3 linked regions of the Homo sapiens genome follow. The protein of the gene in region 2 purifies or fractionates together with the protein of the main gene of each other region. This does not show direct contact. Each region holds a gene or a part of one and is shown on either strand. Other genes may lie near its edges.

Region 1 (7,347 bases), on a different chromosome or scaffold from region 2:
AAGAGATTCACCTGTAATTTGGACCCGCCTATAGAAAATAATGTAAGTAAGTGTATTATGGCCAGTTAAGGTAGGCACTATAAAAATAGGCCGAAAAGTTTAGAATATTCCTTTTTTACTGTAGTCTGTTTTTTAAAATTTGAAACTTGTTAGAGAGTTTGGAAAACAGTCTTCTTCCTCCCACTCCACTTCCTGGCCAAAAAAGAGGGGAAGCACAATGGTCTTCAAAAAAGGTGATAAAGTAAATGCATATTATAAAATATTTTAAACTTTTGTGTGTGTGGTTTCACGTACAGGAAATGAACATGCAAATTCTTAGAAACTGTTGTCACTGTGTTTCTGAAATGCTAAAAAAAATTATGCTTTGAGCTACCTGCTGCTTATAATTCCTTTCCCTGAATAGGTAGGTTTTTATAGTTAACAAATTTTAAATGTAGTTGATTTTGATAGTAGTATTTCATTATGCAATCTGGAGAGGAGAGAGTGTTTTTCATAAAGTGGATATTAATTACAACTTTAAAAAGCCAATCAGTAAACATTCATTGATCTTGTAATTAACTGTGACACCTAATTAAAATGGTTGCTAGGCTGTTATGTCTGGAAAATATTTGAAATTTTTTTATTCTTTAAAATCTGTCTTCATATACATTCCCATTTCTTTTCTATGGCTGGCTTGAAAATTTTAAAAAATATCTTGGATGTTCCATGTGTTGGGTAGGGTCAGAGAACTTACTTTTTTTCGTTTTCCACCTGATGAGATTGAGATTATTTCTATACAGGTAAAAAGCAAACAGGACCCTGGGAATCCAGTGTGGCTTAGGAATAGGACACTAGACTGGGGATCAGAAATTCTATTTTTGGTACTAGTTTGGCTCTTTCCTTGCTTTGTGGTGCTGTCATTCAGCTTTGTTGGTTTGTTTGTTTGTTTGTGATGGAATCTTGCTCTGTCGCCCAGGCTGGAGTGCAATGGTGCGATCTCGGCTCACTGCATCCTCCACCTTCCGGGCTCAAGCAGTTCTCCTGCCTCAGCCTCCAGAGTAGCTGGGATTACAGGCGTGCGCCACCACACCCAGCTAGTTTTTGCATTTTTAGTACAGACAGGGTTTCACCATGTTGGTCAGGCTGGTCTCGATCTCCTGACCTCGTGATCCACCCGCCTTGGCCTCCCAAAGTGCTGGGATTACAGGCGTGAGCCACTCAGCTTTTTAGATTTGGAATTCCTGGGTCTATTTTCTCATTGGTAAAGTGGGAATAACACTTGTCCTCTTGCCCAAATGACAGTATAAGGTAGTTAGTTATTGCTCAGATTCAGAAAGCTACCAACAGTTTGAATTAATTAAAATTATTACGTAACAGTTTGATTTTCCTCTAGGGTACTCTAGAGATCCATTTGGATAGAATTAGGTTAGAGAGAAGGCAAATAGGTGAAGCAATTTTAAAGAAGAAAACAGTGACTTATACATATTAGATAGGGAGAGTTTATTTTACAGCTGTTACATTTGAGGCAATGTGGTATTGATGCAGAAATAGATAGTCATTTTAAGAGGACAGGTTTCATGATGGTTCTAATTGCATTTCTCTAATGGCTAATGATGTTGAACATCTTTTCATGTTTCTTATTTGTCCATATCTTTTTGGTTCACTAGTAAAGTCTTTTATTCATTTTTATTTGGGTTATTTTCTTATTGTTTTGAGAGACTTTTTTGTATTCTAGATACAAGTCCTTAGTTGGATAAGTGATTTGAAATATTTTCTCCCAGCCTGTAGCTTGTCTTTTCAAACTCTCTAAACAGTGTCTTTCCCAGAGCAAAAGTTTGTGATTTTGATGAGGTCCAGTTTATCAAATTTTTCTTTTATGAATCATGCTTTTAGTATCATGTTTACAAAAACCTTTGCCTAACCCCAGGTCACAAAGATTTTCTCTTATTTTTTTCCTGAAAGTGTTATTGTTTTTAATTTTATATTTAGACTTATGGTCCATTTTGAGTTAATTTTTGTATTAAGTGTAGGAATTATGTTGGGATTAAACTTTTGGCATATAGATGTCCAGTTCTTCCAACACCATTTGTTGAAAAAAGCCAACCTTTCTCCTTTGACTTGCCTTTGCACCTTTTTCAAAAATCCATTGGCCATTTTTGTATGGCCCTGTCTCTAAACCTTTTCTGTTTCTATCAGCTCTATGCCACCTTGATTGAAGTAGCTTTATAGTAAGTCTTAAACTTTGGTAGTGTGAAAAAAACTGAAAACAAATAGTTTCTTCAACTTTTTTTGTTTTCATAGTTGTTTTGTTGTTATCTAGTTTCTTTGCATTTCCAAGCTAATTTTAGAATTAGCTTGTCAATTTCTCTAAAAAAATCTTGCTGGGACTTTGACTGGAAATTGCACTGTTTGTACAACAGTTACAGAAAACTTGACATTTCGGCTGGGTGCAGTGGCTCACACCTGTAATCCCAGCACTTTGGGAAGTCAAGGCAGGAGGATCACTTGAGGTCAGGAGTTCGAGTCCATCCTGGCCAACATGACGAAACCCCATCTCTACTAAAAATACAAAAATTAGCTGGGCGTGGTGGCGCACGCTTGTAATCTCAGCTACTCTGGAGGCTGAGGCAAGAGAATCGCTTGAACCCAGGAGGCGGAGGTTCCAGTGAGCCAAGATCGTACCGCTGCACTCCAGCAGCCTGGGCGACAGACTAAGACTCTGTCTCAAAAAAAAGAAAAAGAAAACTTCCCTACTATGTTGAGTCTTCCAGTCCATGAACACAGTATGTTTCTCCATTCTTTTAGATCCTCTTTAGTTTCTTTCATTAGCATTTTGTAGTTATCAGCAAACAAATTTTGCATATGTTTTAATTTGTGCCCAGGAATCTCAGGGTTTGTTTTTTGTGTTTTTTTGTTGTTGTTGTTTTGTTTTGTTTTGCTATTGTAAATGTGTGTTTTAAAAAAAAAAGTTTTGGTTTCCATTTGTTTGTTGCCAGTATATAGAAAAACAGTTGATTCTTATGCTTGTATCCTGTGACATTGCTAAAATCATGTAGTAGTTTTAGGAGTTCTTTTTTGGATTCTTTGGGGTTTTCTACATAGACAACAATGTTGGTTGTGAAAAGGGGCCGTTTTATTTCTTCTTTTCCAGCCTGTATGGTTTTTCCCCCCTTCCTAGCCTTATTACACCAATGTATTGAACAGGACTGGTGACTGCAGACATCCTTCCCTTGTTCCTAATTTTATTGGGAAAGCAGTCAGTCATTCATTATGAAGTATGACGTTTGCTGTAAGTTTTCTGAAAATGCCCTTTCTCAGTTTAAAAAAATCCTCTTCTAGCTTGCAGAAAATTTTTATTATGAAAGTATGCGGAATTTTTTAATAATATGCCAGTTGGTATGCATAAGTGATTTTCTTCTTCAGTGGATTACATTGGAGACAGCCTTGAATCTGGGATAAACTCCCATTGGTCAGGGTATATTACTCTCATTATGAGTTGCTGAATTTGAGTTACTAATATTTCCTTAAGGATTTTTTATTTATGTTAATGAAGGATATTAGTCTGTGGTTTTCTTGTATTCTCTTTGGTTTTGGTATCAGTAATACTGACATCAGTTTATGAGATTAAAATTACAAGTATTTCCTTTTCTATTATTTTTTTAAGAGATTGTATAATAATTGGTGTTATTTCTTCTTTAAATGTGTGATAGAATTTGTCCTTGAAGCCATCCAGGTCTGGAGATTTTTTGCAGAAGATTTCTAATTACAAATTCAGTTTCTTAAAATAATTATAATAGGATTATTCATAGTTGTCTGTTTCATCTTGTGTGACTTTATGTAGTTTGTGTTTTTTGAGGAATTAGTCCATTTCATTTAAATTATCCAATTCATGTGTATGGAATTTATTATTGTGTTCACTTATCCTTTTAAGGAATTAGAGGTCTGTAGTGATGTCTCATCTTTCCTGATATCCCTTCTTTCCATTAGTAATTTATGTCTGCTGACTTTTTTTCTTGGTTAATTTTTCAGGAGGTTTTTCAATTTTTATTTTTTTCCAAGGACTGGCTTTTTATTTCATTAGGTTTTCTCTGTTGCTTTCTTGTTCTCAATTTCGTTGATTTCTACTCTTTATTATTTCTTTCTATTTACTTTAGGTTTATTTTGCTCTTCTTCTCCAGGTTCCTAAAGGTTGAGGCTTACATAATTGATTTGAGATCTTTCTAATTTTCTAATATAAACATTTAATGCTATAAATTTGCTTCAAAGTAGAGTTTTACATACATGCCAAAATTTTTGATATTTTGTATTTTCATGTTTATTTAGATCAAAGTATCTTCTAATTTCCAGAAACTTCCTTTTTGACTTATTATATAGAAGTACATTGTTTAACTTCCAGATGTTTGGAGATTTTTCTTGTTATCTCTTAATTACTTACTTTAGTTTAATTTCATTATAATCAGAGAGCATAATTTGTACTGGCTAGGCGTGGTGGCTCACGCCTGTAATACCAGCACTTTGGGAGGCCTAGGCGGGCAGATCACCTGAGGTCAGGCGTTCAGGACCAGCCTGGCCAACGTGGTGAAACCGCATCTCTACTAAAAATACAAAAATTAGCCGGACATGGTGGCATGAGCCTGTAATCCCAGCCACTCGGGAGGCTGAGGCAGGAGAACCGCTTGAACCCAGGAGGCAGAGGTTGCAGTGAGCCGAGAATGTGCCATCGCACTCCAGCCTGGGCAACAAGAGTGAAACTCCGTCTCAAAAAAAAAAAAAAAAAAGCATAATTTGTATGATTACAGTTCTCTTAAATTTGTTAAGGTTTGTTTTGTGATCCAGGATGTGATCTATCCTCATGAATATCTTGAGCACTTAAAAAGAATGTGTACTCTGCTGTTGTTGGTTGTAGCATTTCATAAATATCAATTCAAGCCAGTTAGTGGATGCTGTTCATTTTGCCTATATTGCTGATTTTTGTGTACAAAGTCTGCCAGTTACTGAGAAAGGAATGTTTAATTTTTCAGCAGTAAGGGTGGATATGCCTATATATCCCTTCAGTTGTTTGAGTTAGTGCATTTGTATTTTGAAGCTCTTTAATTATAGTTGTATATACATTTAGGATGCTTATGTCTTCTTGGTGATTGGGCATTTTATCATCATGTAATGTTCCTCTGTCCCTGGTAATTTTCTTTTCTCTGAAGTTTACTTTGTCTGATATTTATTTATTTTTTGAGGCAAGTCTCACTTTGTTGCCCAGGCTAAAGTTTAGTGGCGTGATTGTGGCTCACTGCAGCCTCAACCTCCTGGGCTTAGGTGATCCTCCTACCTCCACCTCCCAGCTAGCTGCGACTGCAGGTGTGTACCACCACGCCCGGTTAATTTTTTGTATTTTTAGTAGAGGTGGGGTTTGGCCATGTTTCCCAGGCTGTTCTGGAACCCCTGGCTTCATGATCTGCCAGCCTTGGCCTCCCAAAGTGCTGGGATTATATGGGCGTGGGCCACTGCGCCTGACCTTGTCTGATATTATATAGCCACTCTAGCTCTTTTCTTAAATATAACACCTTTATTGAGATATGTAATTCACATACCATACTATTCACCTATTTAAAGTGTACACTTTTAGGGTTTTCAGTATATTCAGAGTTGTGTAACCATCAACAAAATTGATTTTAGAACATTTTTCCCGCGCAAAAAGAAACCGTATGTTCATTAACAGTCACTTCCCATTCCTCCTTCCTTTTCCTAATCCCTCAGTCCTAGACATCCACTAATCTACTTTCAGCCTCTGTGGATTTGCCTCTTTTGGACACTATATAAATGGCGTGATACATTGTCTTTGTGACTGACTTCTTTCACTGAGCATAATTTTTTCAGTTTTCATCCATGTTGTAGCCTGTTTCAGGGCATCATTCCCCCCTACTTTTTTTTTTTTGCCAGATATTCCACTGTATGAACACATCATATTTACTCATTTATCAGTTGAATAATATTGCTGTGAACATTCATGTACAGTTTTTTGCATTGACATACTTTCATTTTCCTGGTATGTACCTAGGAGTGGAATTGTTGGATCACATGTTTAACCTTTTGAAGAACTGTCAGACTTTTCCAAAGTGGCTATACCATTTCACATTCTTTATATCCTAGCCAACACTTACTATCTTTTCTATTATAGCCATCCTAGTAGGTATATCTCATTGTGGTTTTGAATTGCATTTCAGTGATGGCTAGTTATGTTGAGCATGTTTTCATGTTCTTATTAGCCCTCTGGTTTTCTTTTGACTAATATTTGTACAGTATATCCTCTTTTCCATCCTTTTAACTTTTTTTTTGGAGGCAGGGTCACACTTTGTCACCCAGGCAGGAGTGCAGTGGCACAGCCAGGGTTGACTGCGCCCTCACCGTTCCGAGTAGCTGGGACTACAGGCATGTGCCACCACACCCAGCTAATTTTTAAATTTTTTGTAGAGACAGGGTTTTGCCATGTTGCCCAGGCTGGTCTTGAATTCCTGGGCTCAAGCAATCCTCCGATTTTGGCCTCTTAAGGTGCTGGGATTACAGGTGTGAGCCACTATGCCCGGCCTGTCCTTTTACTTTTAACCTACCCATATCATATTTAAAGTGAATTTTATATAAACAATGCATAGTTGGGTCCTCTTTTAAAATTCTGATCATCTGTCTTAATCTTATCTAAATATAAATGTCGAGGACATTTATATTTAGTGAAATTATTAACATGTTTGGATTTAGTTCTGCCATCTTATCATTTGTTTTCTTTTTGTTCCTTTGATATTCCTTTGTTTTGCCTTTTCTCTGTCTTTTGGGTTATTGAACACTTTTTAATTCATTTCAATTAATCTATTGTAGTTTTGACTATTATCTCTGTGCAGTTATTTTAGGGATTTATTAGGAATTACAATATATGTAAATTTTTAAGTCTACTTAAAATTGATATTTTTACAACTTCAAGTGAAATGTAGAAATCTGATCAATGTATAGGCCTTTTTAGCCTCCTCCCTTTTTCTTGTAGTTATATATTTGCCTGCATAAATTAAAAATCTCATTAGATAAATGTTATAATTCTTGTTTTTAAACATTAGACATTTAAAAGAACTAAGAGGAAAATAATTACCCAGATATTTACAATTTCAGTTGGTCTTCCTTTGTTCCTGATGTTCTAAGTTTCCTTCTGATAACACTTTGCTTCTAACTGAAGAGTATTCTTTATAATAAGTCTACTGGAAATAAGTTCTTCTTTCTCTTCAGCTGAGAATGACTTTTATTTCACCTTCATATATGAAACATATTTTTGCTGGATATAGAATTTTGGGTTGATAGGTCTGTTCTTTCAGCATTTTGAAAGTGTTGTTC
Region 2 (7,694 bases):
GTTGAATCTTTGTATATTGGTGTGATGGACATAAACCCACTATTGTTTAATAAAATGCTGTCATAGGACTATTCTGTGAGAAAAATTACAATTTCAACAAATAAAACATGTCAAATCTCTAAATATGCAAGCTTCTCCAAATCCACAATGGAGTTATTTAAAATGGAATATAATGGAGCAAATTACATAGTGATCAGACAGAAGTTTATATAGTCTTACTTTGTAGTGTATTTCAATATTCTGCTAAAGAGGAATAAAATGTGTTTCCGGGGCTAGTCATCAAAATGAGCGTATGTTTCATATACAATAACAGTGGCTAGATTCTACAAGTCAAAAGAGTGGGTCTGAAACATGTTGCCTCATGCACCTAGGGAGACAAAAACACAGGGGAGAAGAAGGGAGGGTTTTGCTGGACAAAAAAAGAAAGACCTGCTGATAAATACTGGAAATCTCTATTTTAAAAGGGGGTGGGGGGAGGCGCAACTCCTCAGGTGACTGCTGATGAGTCAGGTTTGAAAACTTGGAGCTAAGGTTTAATGCCTTATTGGAACAGAGCTCTCTGTCAACCAAGGCCATTTATTCCTAAGCCTCTGTTTGGACACGAGGCAAAAGACTGTTAAATGCCTACCAAATTGTAGAAAAAATGTTCTCTAGAAACAATCTGCAGCAATGTATGTCAAATATTATGTTATCCATATGTACACAGAAAAGTATTTTCATTTATGGCACCAAGGTGTGCACATAGAGAAGCTAAATTATATTAGTAACTACCAGAGAGTTTGTTTCCTACGAGAGAAAATACCAGGACAAAAAAACCACTATAGACAATTAACCAGATAAAGAACTGAGAAAAAACTTGAGGGTAAAATAAATATCGCATAACTAATGAATGCGGCTTGGTGCAGATGAATTCTGTGATAAGAGGCAGATAGTATGAGTAGAAGGAGAAGGAACTTAGCAATTTGCACCAACCTAATAGCGCAGCTTTGCGAAACATTACACTGAAAGGCAAAGGCTTCAGATGAAACGTAAACATACATCTTATCAAAAAACTGCAATAGAAAAGTAGAGTTTCTAATCATGCCACCCAAATTTGCATGATACGCATTTATGCAAATGCACTAATGAAAGGGAATCCCTGTGCTTTATGTTGAGTTTGGTTTAGACTGGAAAACTCTGAAAAAATCTATTCTGAACCCTTCATGAAAACTCCTAACTTAAAACAAATAAACCTTGCTGAATTTTAGCCTAAGAATATGCAAATGCAGATTACAAACAGTAAATAAATGCCTGGCTTTTTTATTTTGGTCTGTTAAATCACGAGTCTCCACTAGTTTTCCATTAGTTGAGATGTATTGGACTTCAAAAAAAATACAAATTAATTTTATAACATATTTGCATAGCTCAAATGTACTCAGGCACACACATTCATTGATCAAAAGGCCTTTTGAAATATTTGCTGGATCATTTTTCCTTATCAACTCCATTGAGAAAAGGGAGGAAAATCCTCATTTCACAATGTTATTATAGCATGTACTGTTGAATGTATGCTAGGTTCTGTGCTAGGCACTTCATGTACATCATTTCTTTCAATTCTCACAAGTCATTACCCTCATTTTCAGAGGCACAAACTAAAATGACAGAAGTTAAGCAACTTATATCCAAGGTTACATAGCTAAATGTTGGAACACAGATTCAAATCTAGGTCTGCTAATATATTCAAAATTGCCTGAATATTTATTAGCTGTCAGGATTCTTTTTTACTTGTACTTTGATACAATCTATAGCATCACCTATAGTACTTGGTGTAATATGTATATGACATATGCTTATTGAAAAATGTTGCTAAAATGAATAAAGGGGATAACTACCTTAGATATAAGAAAGTAAAATATTGGAGAAACGCCTGAAGAAGAAATCATTTTCTATTTTAGTGCAATTTTATCCACTAATTTGTCAATTAATAATGGTAAGAACATACATGAAAATGTACCAATATATGACAGTGATACAAATAATTATACTTTAGCCTATCTATGCTATTCATATGTGGTTGAATTTTAGTCTCAGAAATAACATACATATCAACAAACTTGCCAGGGCAAATTATCCCTCCTCAAATGGTTAGGAAGTAAATTTTCATTGCCACCATTACTCTTAATTCAATTGTGCTAAATTAGTACACTCTAGAAAACAGAACTGAAGTATTATTACTCCCTCATAAAGAAAACAACACCCTAAAGAAAGCCTCTGTCAATGACTATAGACAAGACTCTTAAGCTCAATTTCCTTATGACTAAAATGTGCTGCTAATAATGTGGTTTTCAAACCGCAGCTCCCTAGAGTCACAGACGGTTTAGCAGAGATGTCTCAGGGACTCTGTAGGGGGAAAGAGGATGTCAAAGTGACAGGATGAGAGCTCTGGGCCTACATTTCTATGCCAGTTTCAACCACAATACTGTTATCTCTCTCACGTACTGGCATTCTATGTTAAAATATCCTTTTTCACATTTCTTTCAAATGGCAGAAACTCTATTTTTCAATCTCCAGATTACATCAACATTGGAAGTCTGTGATTGGGAAACAGCAGTGAACACCTGGCATTAGATTGCCTGGGTTCAAATCCAGCTCTACCACTTAATAGGTAAGTTCTGTGGCCTTACCTAATTTTCTGTGCCTGCTTCAATTTCCTCACTTGTTACTGGGTTGTTGTGATAAGTAAATAAATGTAAAGTGATTAAAATAGTGCTTAGCATATAATAAGTCCTATATAAATGATTGTTATTAAGATGACATTGATTATATAAACCTACTTCGATGATCTGAAGCAAAATCTGCTGCAAATATTATTTTAAATGTCAAATCTTCATAGAAATGTGTCATGGCTCATCAACAAGTACACGATTATCAAAGCAAATGAAAACTTACCAAATTATTTCAAAACTTTAGAAATAAATAGTCTAAACAACTAAGTTTGGGATCACTGACAATTTATCCTTTTACAGGCCAAACATGTTTACTTTAACTATACAGGGCGAGTATCCCTTAAACAAAATGCTTGAGACCAGAAGTCTTTAGACCTGGGGATGAGGCCCAAGTATAAACATGAAATTCATTTATGTTTCATAAAGTGCATCCATATATGCATACATTTTGTGCATACAACAAAGTTTTGATTGTGTTTTGACTACAACCCATCCATCACATGAGGTCAGACGTGGAATTTTCCACTTATGGTGTCATGTCACGGTGCTCAAAAAGTTTTGGATTTTGGAGCATTTAGAATTTGATATTCAAATTAGGGATGCTCAACTTGTACCAGATTAAAAATAAAACTCCATGAACAGTTGATTATCTTCCTCCTTCACATATTAAAAGTAGAAAAGGAAGCTGGGGCTTTCCCATAGGAAAGGTAAAATACAAAACCCTTAGGCCAGGCGTGTTGGCTCACACCTGTAATCCCAGCACTTTGGGAGGCCAAGGCAGGCGGATCACAAGGTCAAGAGATCGAGACCATCCTGGCTAACACAGTGAAACCCCATCTCTACTAAAAATACAAAAAATTAGCCAGGCATGGTGGCGGGCGCCTGTAGTCCCAGCTACGCTGGAGGCTGAGGAAGGAGAGTGGCATGAACCCGGGAGGCAGAGTTTGCAGTGAGCCGAGATGGCGCCACTGCACTCCAGCCTGGGCGACAGAGCAAGACTCCGTCTCAAAAACAAAACAAACAAACAAAACAAACAAAAAAACCCTTAGTGTTTGTCCCTTGTGACACAGATTTTGGCTATTCAATTAAAAGCCTTTTTTATATTCCTGGCCCTTAATTATTGTCAAAGAGTAGGGTCATTCCTTGATAGCTGGGTTGCATACCTATCACGAACCATTATTTTCTATGGGACATATTCCTCTCTTTATGTGACTCAAAAGAGAGTATCCAAACTAGCTAGGTATCCAAACAAGCTAAAATAGCATTTCTCAATGTGAATGACAAAGAATACTATTTTCAAAAGATGAATGTTTTCTTTTTCTTTCATAATTGAGATTTCATCAGTTGTGTTGAGGATCAGTACACAGACATTTCAACTTGTACATAATTCTGAACATATGTACTGCAAAATCTAAAAAGCCACGTATCATTATTATTCTCTAAAGTTATTCCAGTGACTTTCCAGCTTACAACTGAGGCAAAATTACCTTAAAAGGCTATCAAGTACCAGTACCTTCAAATGTTGATAAGCTGTCACATACGTCCCACCAATTCACAATTTAATAGCATATACACTATATACTTTAATCTTTCACAGCACATTAACAAAGTTATTAGAAAAACAGGACTACCATGACCAAAGATGTTACAGAGTGCACACAATTCTGATAGGTAGAGCCAGGCTCAAGGAGTGGTTTGCCCAAGGAAACAATTCCACTAAAAAACAACATGAAGAGTAGAAGTAATTTAAGGCCAGGTGTGGTGGCTCACTCCTGTAATCCCAACACTTTGGGAGGCCAAGGCAGGAGGATCACTTGAGCTCAGAGGTTAGAGACCAGCTTGGGCAATGTAGGGAGATGTGGTTATCTACTAAAAATTAAAAAAAAAAAAAAGAAATTAGCTTGGTGTGGTGTTGTACACCAGTAGTCCTAGCTACTCTGGAGGCTGAGGTGGAAGGACTGCTTGAGCCCAGGAGGTTGAGGGTGCAGTAAGTTATGATCATGCCACTGCAGTCCAGCCTGGGTGACAGAGTGAAGTAATTAAAAATGTTCAAGACATGAAATGCAGGACTGCGACTCCACTTTGCCATTTAGTATGCTTTATATTATGGGATATAAAAACTAACCACCCATCTATGGAATGTTAAGCTGACACCCATAACAGTCAAGGCTTCCCATAATTCAATATCCAACATTATTTTCCCATTGTACCAAAAAATAACCAGCAAATTAAATTATTTCACCTCTTTAAAAAAAAAAGCATTTACACTTAAAAAATGGAATGCAGTGGAATTCCCTCCTTAAATGTTTCTAGAGCTATTAAAAAACATTAGAGCTACTAAAAAACATGCATTTACAACATAGTTGATAAAAATATTCTCCTGGATTATGTAAGAAGAGAGACGGGGAACCACTGATAAGACATGGTATGCGATATTAATCAGACTGGGCTTCTTTCTCTCCTGCTTCAGAGGCTGGACTCTCTTCAGTTTTAGTTTTTCTGTTTTCTGCAGGTAAATCTTTATTCTTAGCTACTTTGGCTTGTTTTCACTTTCCTACTCTTTTCTCTTTTGTTTGCACTTTTTTGCCTGAAGATTTATCTTTTCCTGCTACCTTTTGGGGCTTCAATTTCCACTACTGAAAGAGCAGGTTTAGCTGACAACCACATCAATCTCCTTTTGGGATCTTCCCTCACTGTCCCATCAGCTGAGCTGACCGTCCTCTTGGGCATCCTGGAAGTGGGGAAGGCGCATATCAGATGCATGTGGGCCATGGCATGCTGAGGGCCTTCACAAAGCTGGGCTGCCTGGCTGCTGCCACTCCTCCCACTGCCCAAACTCCAAAAGATGAATGTTACTATTTATTCCAAGTGAGTCTCCTTAGGTTCTTCAAAGTTACCACATATGTCACAGCCTCTTCCAGAAAAAGACCTGCGCTAAATCTTTTCTCCCCAGCAATATCTACCTATGGTTTCACCAAAACCATGCATTGATAGTGACACTGCAAGTATTCCCAGCTTTCTTTGTTTTTTATCCACTGAGGCTGAAGAAAATTATCAGACTTTCTAGTTTAAAGATACTTATGTAGGGATTATGTTTTCACTCAATCCCCTACCCTCTCACCCTTCACTGTACTCCAGAAGAGTGTCCCTGGTCTGAGAACTACTGCTCTAGGATGACCCTTCTTGCTGCTGCTCACCAGCCAGCCTTCTGGCCCCATGAGTATTCTTGGTCTTATTTAACCTATATCCCCCAAAGGCAAGGATTTAGAGGCTATTTGGTCAGTCTTAGAAAACACTACTCATGCCTAAGAGTACGTTACTTACCTTAATGACTGCTGCTATTTCTGAAATAAAAATTATTTTGGTATATCTTACTACCAATCTCTAGGATATATCCAGTTTCTCTATTCATTTATCTGACATTTATATCTTCCCATCATTTATGTAGTTCAAACTACATTCCAGTTTATGCACATTTCATTGTTGTTTTAAAATTAAACATTCTAAAAAATGCTGTACTCTGAAACCAAACGCCATAAAGTTAATAAAATGTGGTATTTAAAAATTTGAGATTTTATTTCAAATAAGCATTTCAAGTTAGTCATACCAAAATTAAAAAATGTAGATGAGTAGTTCCTCGGAAGTACTTTTAAGAAAAGAAGAAACAAAACAAATAATTGCTTACTTGATTGTCTGCAGAAACCTCACTCTGTCATTGATCTCATCTGGGATCTTACTGAGAATTTGTTTAAGTGCTCGTGCCTTTTCGTTTAGGTCTTGGAATTCTGGCTCTGGTCGTTCAATCATATACTCTGATAAAATAAATACATAATAAAAAACATCCTGCGACTCTCTGCCAAATTCATCACATCTAAGAATTTCCAATGTTGGTCAAAGGCAGGTGAGGGAGGTGAAAGGCCAGATAATTAGGAAAGACAAGGTTGCAAAGCAGAATTCATTAGCGTTTGACTTAGTCCAGTAACAACAGCAGGGCTCCCTTCAAGTAAAGTATCACAAAAAGAAAGAATAAATATTTTCAATTTGGGACAAAAGGACATCCCATGAAATCTTAAAAAAAAAAAACACACAAAAAAAAAACAGATTTAAAAGGGAGGCTTAAGTTCAACCGTACTCTGACATTACATTTCCCAAGGAAACCTTAAATTAAATAATGAGTGTCATAACTAGTGCAAAGGTAATATCTACTTGCCAACTGGAAAGATTAAAAATTTAAAACCCCTATATTTAATATACATTGCTTCATCATATTAAAACCCCAAATAATCTAATAAAATCTTCTACACATTTTTGAAATCTCACTTAAAAACAAAAACACCAGCACAAATCCAACACACAGGCTGGGATCACAGAACACCAATTTTGGAAAGGAGACTTCACTAGATTCATTGCAGACTTGGAAGCATTACAACTCTACCAATTCATCAATATATTATGGCCTAATGGGCTGCAAATGCTCAACTCTAAATAATGATAAGGGCTTTCTTAAAATCATGGAATCAGTTAAAATACCTGCTTTGTGTTCTTCCTTAATAATTCTGGGAAATTATATGTCCATATTTTTCTAAATTAGTGGGAAAACTGCTACTAAACTTAAGTAAAACCAACGTCTAAATAATTTCAAGTAAAAAAAATAAGAAAAGTAAAAAGGATGGTTATATTATTCTCTTAAATCTGTGCTTGAAACACAGATGCTGTACTAAAGTTAAAAAAACAACAAAACAAAAACCTCATTACTTTCAAACTGTTGTTTGCTTAAAGTCAACACATTCCAAATAAGCTTATCTTTTAGTAAAACTGAAACTCACCAAACATAAAGGGGGGAAAAATTGAAGTATGCAGCATAAACAAAGTTCAAGTAATTAAATCTCACAAATATAAAAAGCAAGAAAAACCATTTTTCTATTTTATCTACATTAGCTTCCACTATCACTATCACCACCACCACCATCATCATCATAAGTGAAAGGG
Region 3 (7,347 bases), about 110 Mb from region 2:
CCTACTCAAGGAATTAATGTCGATGTTTTTGTCAAACCACTTGAATGTAAGATGCAAGCATCATGATGCTTCTCTTCTAAATACTCCTTAAAAAAAAAAAAAAAAAAAAAGAGCATTATCCTATATAATGACAAATCCAGAAACAGGGGCCAGGACCTTTGCAGACTCCAGTGGATAGTGTTGAAAGAGCTGTGAGAGAAGTTTTGTAGCTAATGCAACAGTGTTTCTGCCACTGGAAAAATCTCTCTCTCTACATGCCCCTTCCCTGGCCCAAAGACCTTTTGAAGGAAGAATTGATAAGTTGACTAGAGTAGCTGAACCCAGAATCAAATTTTTTTCTTTTTTTTTCTTTTTTTTTTTTTTTTTTTTTTAGAGACACAGTCACTCTCTGTCGCCCAGGCTGGAGTGCAGTGGCGCGATCTTGGCTCATTGCCACCTCTGCCTCCCAGGTTCAAGCAATTCTCGTGCCTCAGCCTCCTGAGTAGCTGGGATTACAGGCGCGCACCACCACGCCCAGCTAATTTTTAGTATTTTTAGTAGAGACGGGGTTTCCACATGTTGCCCAGGCTGGTCTCAAACTCCTGACCTCAAGTGATCTGCCTGCCTCAGCCTCCCAGAGTGCTAGGATTACAGGCATGAACCACCGCGCCTAGGCCAGAATACAATTTTTCTAGAGAGAAAAATAGGATATAATCTATGAATATGAAAAAAAAATATATATATATATATATATATATATAATTTCCAAAACCTATTGTAATTGTATTGTGAAAGTTATTCTTAGCTCTTTTTTGATGAATTGAAGTTATTATGCTGAGGTACTTATAAACCAAGGTGATACTCAAATAGAATTCATTAGAACAATATGGCTTACCTGATGATATATTTATTTCAGGCAGTGTTCAGTAGCAGAAGGTTTTAAAAAATTAAAAAGCAGAATGATTGGAGAGGAAGGAGTTTAGGGGAAGGGGCATATTTGAAATAGAATGCTGGATTTAATTTATTTCGGTAAAACCACTTAGGTTACATCATTTAATATATTCAGCAGATTTTTGTTGTTGTTGCGGTTTTTTTTTTTCTTTTTGATACAGAGTCTCACTCTGTTGCCCAGGCTGGAGCGCAGTGGCGCGATCTCGGCTCACTGCAACGTCTGCCTCTTGTGTTCAAGCAGTTCTCCTGCCTCAGCCTCCCAAGTAGCTGGGACTACTGGCACCTGCCACCACGCCTGGCTAATTTTTTGTGTTTTTAGTAGAGACGGGGTTTCACCGTATTAGCCAGGATGGTCTCGATCTCCTGACCTCGTGATCCGCCTGCCTCAGCCTCCCAAAGTGCTGGGATTACAGGCATGAGCCACCACGCCCAGCTCAGATATTTGTTATATGTGCGTGTTGGGGAAATGATGATGACAAAGTAGGCTCAGTAGAGCTTTCAGCCTAGTTTTTATTTTGTGTTCCACAACTAGGGTAATTGTGCTAAAATTTAGCTGTTACTTGAAGAAAAGTTTCTTTTTGTTTTCCATATCCAGTTAAGTTCCAAGTGAAATTTTTCTGACTGGTTATCAAGAAATTTCAAAATTGATGAAGAAGTATAGCATTTTGCTCATCTCACTGAATTTCAAGTCTTAATAAGCAATGAGTTATAATCTGTCACTGTCTGTTTATTTTGATGCTAGAATTGTGAATATATAATTTATGTTAATATATTTTTATAATGTCATCACCATGATTACTAATATATATAACTGTATTTGTATTTTCTCCCAACTACTAAAATGCTTACTATAATTTGCTTCTAAGTTTTATTTAACTCAGTTGTTCTATGTTGTTTATGCATGTGCAAACATGAGAGAGATTACCAGTCTTTTATTGTAGATTATAGTGTGATACTAACTCTTGCTTTTAAAATAAACATGTTTTTGTCAGATGACTTGCAGGGTGCACAGTCAGAAATTGAGGCAAAGCAAGAAATACAGCATCTTCGAAAGGAATTGATCGAAGCCCAGGAGCTAGCTAGAACAAGTAAACAAAAATGCTTTGAACTTCAAGGTGAGATCAAGATTACTTTGGTTCTTTAGGGATGTGTGGAGGCAGCACAATATAATTGGGTGGCCCCAAACTTGGAGTCCGGAGGCATGTTCCAGATTCACAACTTTATGAGATATGTGATCTTGGTATATTTACTTGACCTCTCTAAACTTGTGTTTCAGGTCAGTAAAATGAGGAGAGTTACAGTTGCTCTACCTTCACACTGTTGATGTGAAAATCAAGTAAGATCTTTACTAACTGAAAGATCTTAATAGTTAATTGCATATTAAGTACAACAGAAGGAAAACTCAAATTTCTAAATTTTTATTATGCCTAATGTTAGCTAATGTCCTGGCCACATTCTTTTCTAGTAGCTCACTTATCTATAGGTCATAAGCCAGTGGAGTCTGTGCAGTTCCCTAGAGCTTACATTTCTGTATCATTCATAGTAACTACCTGGTTGCAGACAATTAGTATCTCAAAGAGTCTTAAAATGAGAAAGGGAATGACTTCTGGAGCCCTCATGTTCTCCAAGATGGCCTTCCTGCCTAGTAGGAAGATTTACATCCCAGGAGGGAACTAGGAACTTCTTGTTACTACTTCTTTCCTTTCCTAATTCTCAAAGAAATTAGAATTGGTATTCACTTAACTTGAACCTTTTGGAGGATCCAGGCTAATATATTAAATTACAATGAAAAAATATTTGGTAAATAGCAATTATTTAGTTTAGTGTTTACTATGTGCTTGACAGTAAATATAAGAATTTTAAGTCTTTTTAAAAAATTAAGTTCAAAATGCTGATTAACAATTATCAAGACTGTTTCTCATGTTAAGAAAAGCACATATTGTCTTGGTGATACCAGGTCCAGAAAACTCCACTACTCAGTTGAATAGATTTATTACTTACTACAGTTCTGTGCTCCTAAAATCTTTAAACTAACTGCTAATACTGATAATACTTACTGCCTAACTTTTGTTTCTTTCAATAATCTTTTAGGAGAGAATTTTAAAAGAAATTTTCAGCTGCTCAACTCTGAGTACTTTCATTAATTCACAAAACTATTAATAGATACTGTGTTTTTACTTTTAGCTCTTTTGGAAGAAGAAAGAAAAGCCTATCGAAATCAAGTTGAGGAATCCACTAAACAAATACAGGTTCTTCAAGGTATGGAAGACCCCAAGGCTCTTTGAGATTGTTATTGTGTGTTTGTTTTTAGTGATTCAAAAGGAATGGAGGCCAGGCGCAGTGGCTCATGCCTGCAATCCCAGCATTTGGGAGGCCGAGAAGGGTGGATCTCCTGAGGTCAGGAATTCGAGAGCAGTGTGGCCAACATGGTGAACCCCTGTCTCCACTAAAAATACAAAAATTAGCTGGGCATGGTGGTGCATGCCTGTAATCCCAGCTTCTCGGGAGGCTGAGGCAGGAGAATTGCTTGAACCTGGGAGGTGGAGGTTTCAGTGAGCTGGGATTGCACCACTGCACTCCAGCCTGGGTGACAGAGCAAGACTCCATCTCAGAAAAAAAAAAAAAAATGAAATGGAAAGTAAGAAGGCAGAGAGTCCCCATTTTTCATGGCTTTGATTCTCTAGAACCTCACATTTCAACACGGCTCTTGGTGGAGCTTTATTTATTTATTTGTTTTTGAGACAGAGTTTCGCTCTTGTTGCCCAGGCTGGAGTACAATGGCGCGGTCTCACCTTACTGCAACCTCCGCCTCCCAGGTTCAAGCAATTCTCCTGCCTCAGCCTCCTGAGTAGCTGGGATTACAGGCATGCGCCACCACACCCAGCTAATTTTGTATTTTTAGTAGAGATGGGGTTTCTCCATGTTGGTCAGGCTGATCTCAAACTCCCAACCTCAGGTGATCCACCAATCTTGGCCTCCCAAAGTGCTGGGATTACAGGTGTGAGCCACTGCGCCTGGCCTATTTTTTTTTTTTTTTTAAAGAAAATTCAAGGGAAGATTGTCCAGTACTCTCGTATTAGACACTTAGAATGGAAAAAGCAGAGGTGAAGATTTGGAGTTGGTAAGACTGTCACTTTCTGAGTTATGTCGTGAGTTCCTACAGAGGGCCTTTGGATAGGAAATCTGTTTGAGCTACTCTGCGTCAGCACTTTGAGCTTGCTGGTATATGTATATATTGATGGCTGGTGTAGATATATTGCCATCTAATGCTCAGAACACACTTGTATTGCAAGAAAATATTTTTTTGCTTGTTTTTTTGAGACATAGTCTTGCTCTGTTGCCCAGGCTGGAGTGCAGTGGTGATCTTGGCTCACTACAACCTCCGTCTCCCGAGTTCAAGTGATTCTGGAGCCTCCCAAGTAGCTGGGACTACAGGTGCATGCCACCATGCCCAGCTAATTTTTGTATTTTTAGCAGAGATGGGGTTTCACTATATTGGCCAGGCTGGTCTCAAACTCCTGACCTCGTGATCCACCCACCTTGGCCTCCCAAAGTGCAGAGATTACAGGCATGAGCCACTGCACCTGGCCTCAAGAAAAATTATATATCACGTGGAATAGGATAGTAGTCTCTGCACTGATTTTCGTTGATAATGGCTGTTCTTCTTATCACCATTTTGCTATTTCTTTGTCTGGGCTATTACAGGGTTATTACAGAAATTTCCAGAAAGACCCCTGCCTGTCGAATGTTTACTTCAAGCTTGAGCTCCTGGTATATTATGAGGAAATTATATGATACCCCAGGAGAGGTCTTCCTTTCCCATGCCATTGTAAAATTCCTAAAGTAAAATTAATTTGCCTTCTTGTCAAAGAAGGAGCCAATGTTGTTTTAAAATTTTAGCTTGAGAGATAGGTGGGGAAGAAATTAAATAGACAAGTAATCACTATTCAGAAGAGAAGGGAGAGTCATTGTACGAGGCCCAAGATACTTGCCCAAAAATATCGCAGAGAAAAACTAGTCTTTGGGGTCCTATTTTTTGAGTGGAACATTTGAGTTATTTAAAATTAGAATTTTATTTTGGTCAGATTAGAATTTCTAGGGTATGTCATATGTGTTTTTAAATTGAAAGCTCTTAAAACTCCTATTGTAGTTTAATGTCATTATCCATTAATTTACATAAATCTGATTTGGATCTCTATTTTCATCGTAGACTGTGTAGGGGCAATTTTTCCTAAAGGTTCTGTGACATAGTGCTACCTTTTTTTTAAAACCTGTCTTGCCCAGGCATTATTGAGTGCCCCCTGGTGCCAGCATGTGTATTTCACGACTGTATCAACAAATCATGATCATCTTCTCTGGCCATTGTGCCCTTTCAGATTCCAAACTTGTTACCTCTCAGTCCTTCCTACAAACTTAGAAAGTCTAATATCTTAATGTTTACTTATGTAGCAACCTCCCTTTCTCCCATCCCTAAATCCTCTTGTAATTAATTATTTTCCTTTGGAACTTTTTAAATCTACAATTTCCTTATAATATGGTAACCAATATTAATTTTCTTGTTCTGCGCCAAGTTTGATTTTATACAAATTGTTTCCAGTTTGGGTCATGAGCACAAAACCAGGTATTTTTAAAAATCTATATAACCCTTCAATGAGGCAGTATTAATTTTATTAACTCATTAATTCAACCAATAATTCTTGATTGTTTACTGTGTTAGATATTGGGGTATCCCCAATACCTGACAGCTGTGAGCAAAACAAATGCCCTACACACATGAGGTGTACAGTCCAGTAGAAAAGATAAACAATAAGCAAATTAATAGATAATATGATGTCCAATAAGGACTTCAAAGGAAAATAAAGCAGAGTAAAGAGCCAGAGAATGACAGTGAGCTGTTTTTCACATGAGTCATCAGAAAAGGCCTCTTTAAAGAATTGACATTTGAACAGAAAAACGAATCAAGGGCGTCAACTGTTTATTGCTTTTATTGCTTACCATTTGACCAAGCAATTCTACACATAGGATTCACCCTAAAAAAAAAAAAAAAAAAAAAAAAAAGGATTGTATATAGTGTTTAAACACTGAACAGCCTAAAATGTCAAAAATAAAGGGTTGGGCAAATAAGTTATATATACTATAACTATTTTTTTGTTGAAAGAGTTTCATCAACAGAAGGATAGGGAACACTGCATTTATTGTGATCACTCCCTATTTAATGTTTGTTTTTACATGTTTATAAATGCATAGGAAAAAATCCAGAAGGAATATCAGAAGTAATTTTCTGTGTGTTGGGGAGATGAAGATCACTTTGGTTTTTTTTTCCTCTTTGCTATCTGTATTTTGACGCTTTCTGCATCAAACGTGGATTGTTTATACACTTTAATCAAAAGCAACAGCTCTGACAACCCAGGTTATGCATTAGCTACAATCCTGTATGGATTATTCTTTTATTCTAATGGGCCAAGAAAATGATGGATATACTTTTGCAGCCCAATTGCAGAGGTTACACATCGATACTGAGAATCTCCGGGAGGAGAAGGACAGTGAAATCACAAGTACTAGAGATGAATTGCTTAGTGCCCGAGATGAAATTTTGCTCCTTCATCAAGCAGCAGCAAAGGTTGCCTCTGAGCGGGACACTGACATTGCTTCTTTACAAGAAGAGCTTAAGAAGGTGAGAGCTGAGCTTGAGCGGTGGCGGAAAGCAGCGTCTGAATATGAGAAAGAAATCACAAGTCTGCAAAACAGTTTTCAGCTTAGATGTCAACAGTGTGAGGACCAGCAGAGAGAAGAAGCAACAAGGTTGCAAGGTGAATAAATGTATTTTACATAAAGCTGTTAACTTTTGACAATGATAACTTCTTAACTTGTTTAAAAAAGAAACATGCAGGCTTTTTTTTTCTTTGTTAGCTATCAGTTGTATAAACCAATGTTTTTAAATCGGAGCTAAAAATGTATTTTCAGGTCTGCAAGTTCTACTTAAATTTATATTTTTTTACGGTTTTATATTTTATTTTAAAATTGTTAAAAATTGCTTGTCTTATAAAAGTGAAGTGGAAAAAAATACTATTGTTCAAGTACAAGCTGATAGCAGTCCTTGAGGTATACATGCAAAGTAACAGGAATCATATAATTAACCATGTAAAATCTACTTGCTTTTAAGGGGGCAAAAAGTATGTTCTCCTCTGAAATCTTTTCCTTTATCCTTTGAAGTATTATGGAAGTTATATTTCTGTATTAACAAATATGTTTTGGGACTATTTTAGGTGAACTAGAGAAGTTGAGAAAGGAATGGAATGCATTGGAAACCGAATGCCATTCTCTAAAAAGGGAAAATGTTTTGCTATCATCAGAACTGCAACGGCAAGAAAAAGAATTGCACAAGTATGCAAGAACTCTCTGTTTTTCAGATATAAA

Evidence for each region. The genes of interacting proteins can lie anywhere in the genome.
Region 1: the proteins of PDCD10 (region 2) and FGFR1OP2 purify together in Homo sapiens (affinity purification with mass spectrometry; 4 studies listed by BioGRID and IntAct, with this or other methods). This does not show direct contact.
Region 3: the proteins of PDCD10 (region 2) and SLMAP purify together in Homo sapiens (affinity purification with mass spectrometry; 4 studies listed by BioGRID and IntAct, with this or other methods). This does not show direct contact.

Annotation. Positions count from the first base shown.
Region 1 is NC_000012.12:26,941,123-26,948,469, forward strand, and holds part of FGFR1OP2 (FGFR1 oncogene partner 2), read left to right. Parts: intron 1-7,347. UniProt on the Homo sapiens protein: May be involved in wound healing pathway.
Region 2 is NC_000003.12:167,689,206-167,696,899, forward strand, and holds part of PDCD10 (programmed cell death protein 10), read right to left. Parts: intron 6,518-7,694; coding exon 6,391-6,517; intron 1-6,390. UniProt on the Homo sapiens protein: Promotes cell proliferation. Modulates apoptotic pathways. Increases mitogen-activated protein kinase activity and STK26 activity. Important for cell migration, and for normal structure and assembly of the Golgi complex.
Region 3 is NC_000003.12:57,905,962-57,913,308, forward strand, and holds part of SLMAP (sarcolemmal membrane-associated protein), read left to right. Parts: intron 1-5; exon of another isoform or gene 6-86; intron 87-1,922; coding exon 1,923-2,045; intron 2,046-3,093; coding exon of another isoform or gene 3,094-3,114; coding exon 3,115-3,189; intron 3,190-5,925; exon of another isoform or gene 5,926-5,960; intron 5,961-6,177; coding exon of another isoform or gene 6,178-6,230; exon of another isoform or gene 6,231-6,419; coding exon 6,420-6,740; intron 6,741-7,196; coding exon 7,197-7,314; coding exon of another isoform or gene 7,315-7,347. UniProt on the Homo sapiens protein: Associates with the striatin-interacting phosphatase and kinase (STRIPAK) core complex, forming the extended (SIKE1:SLMAP)STRIPAK complex.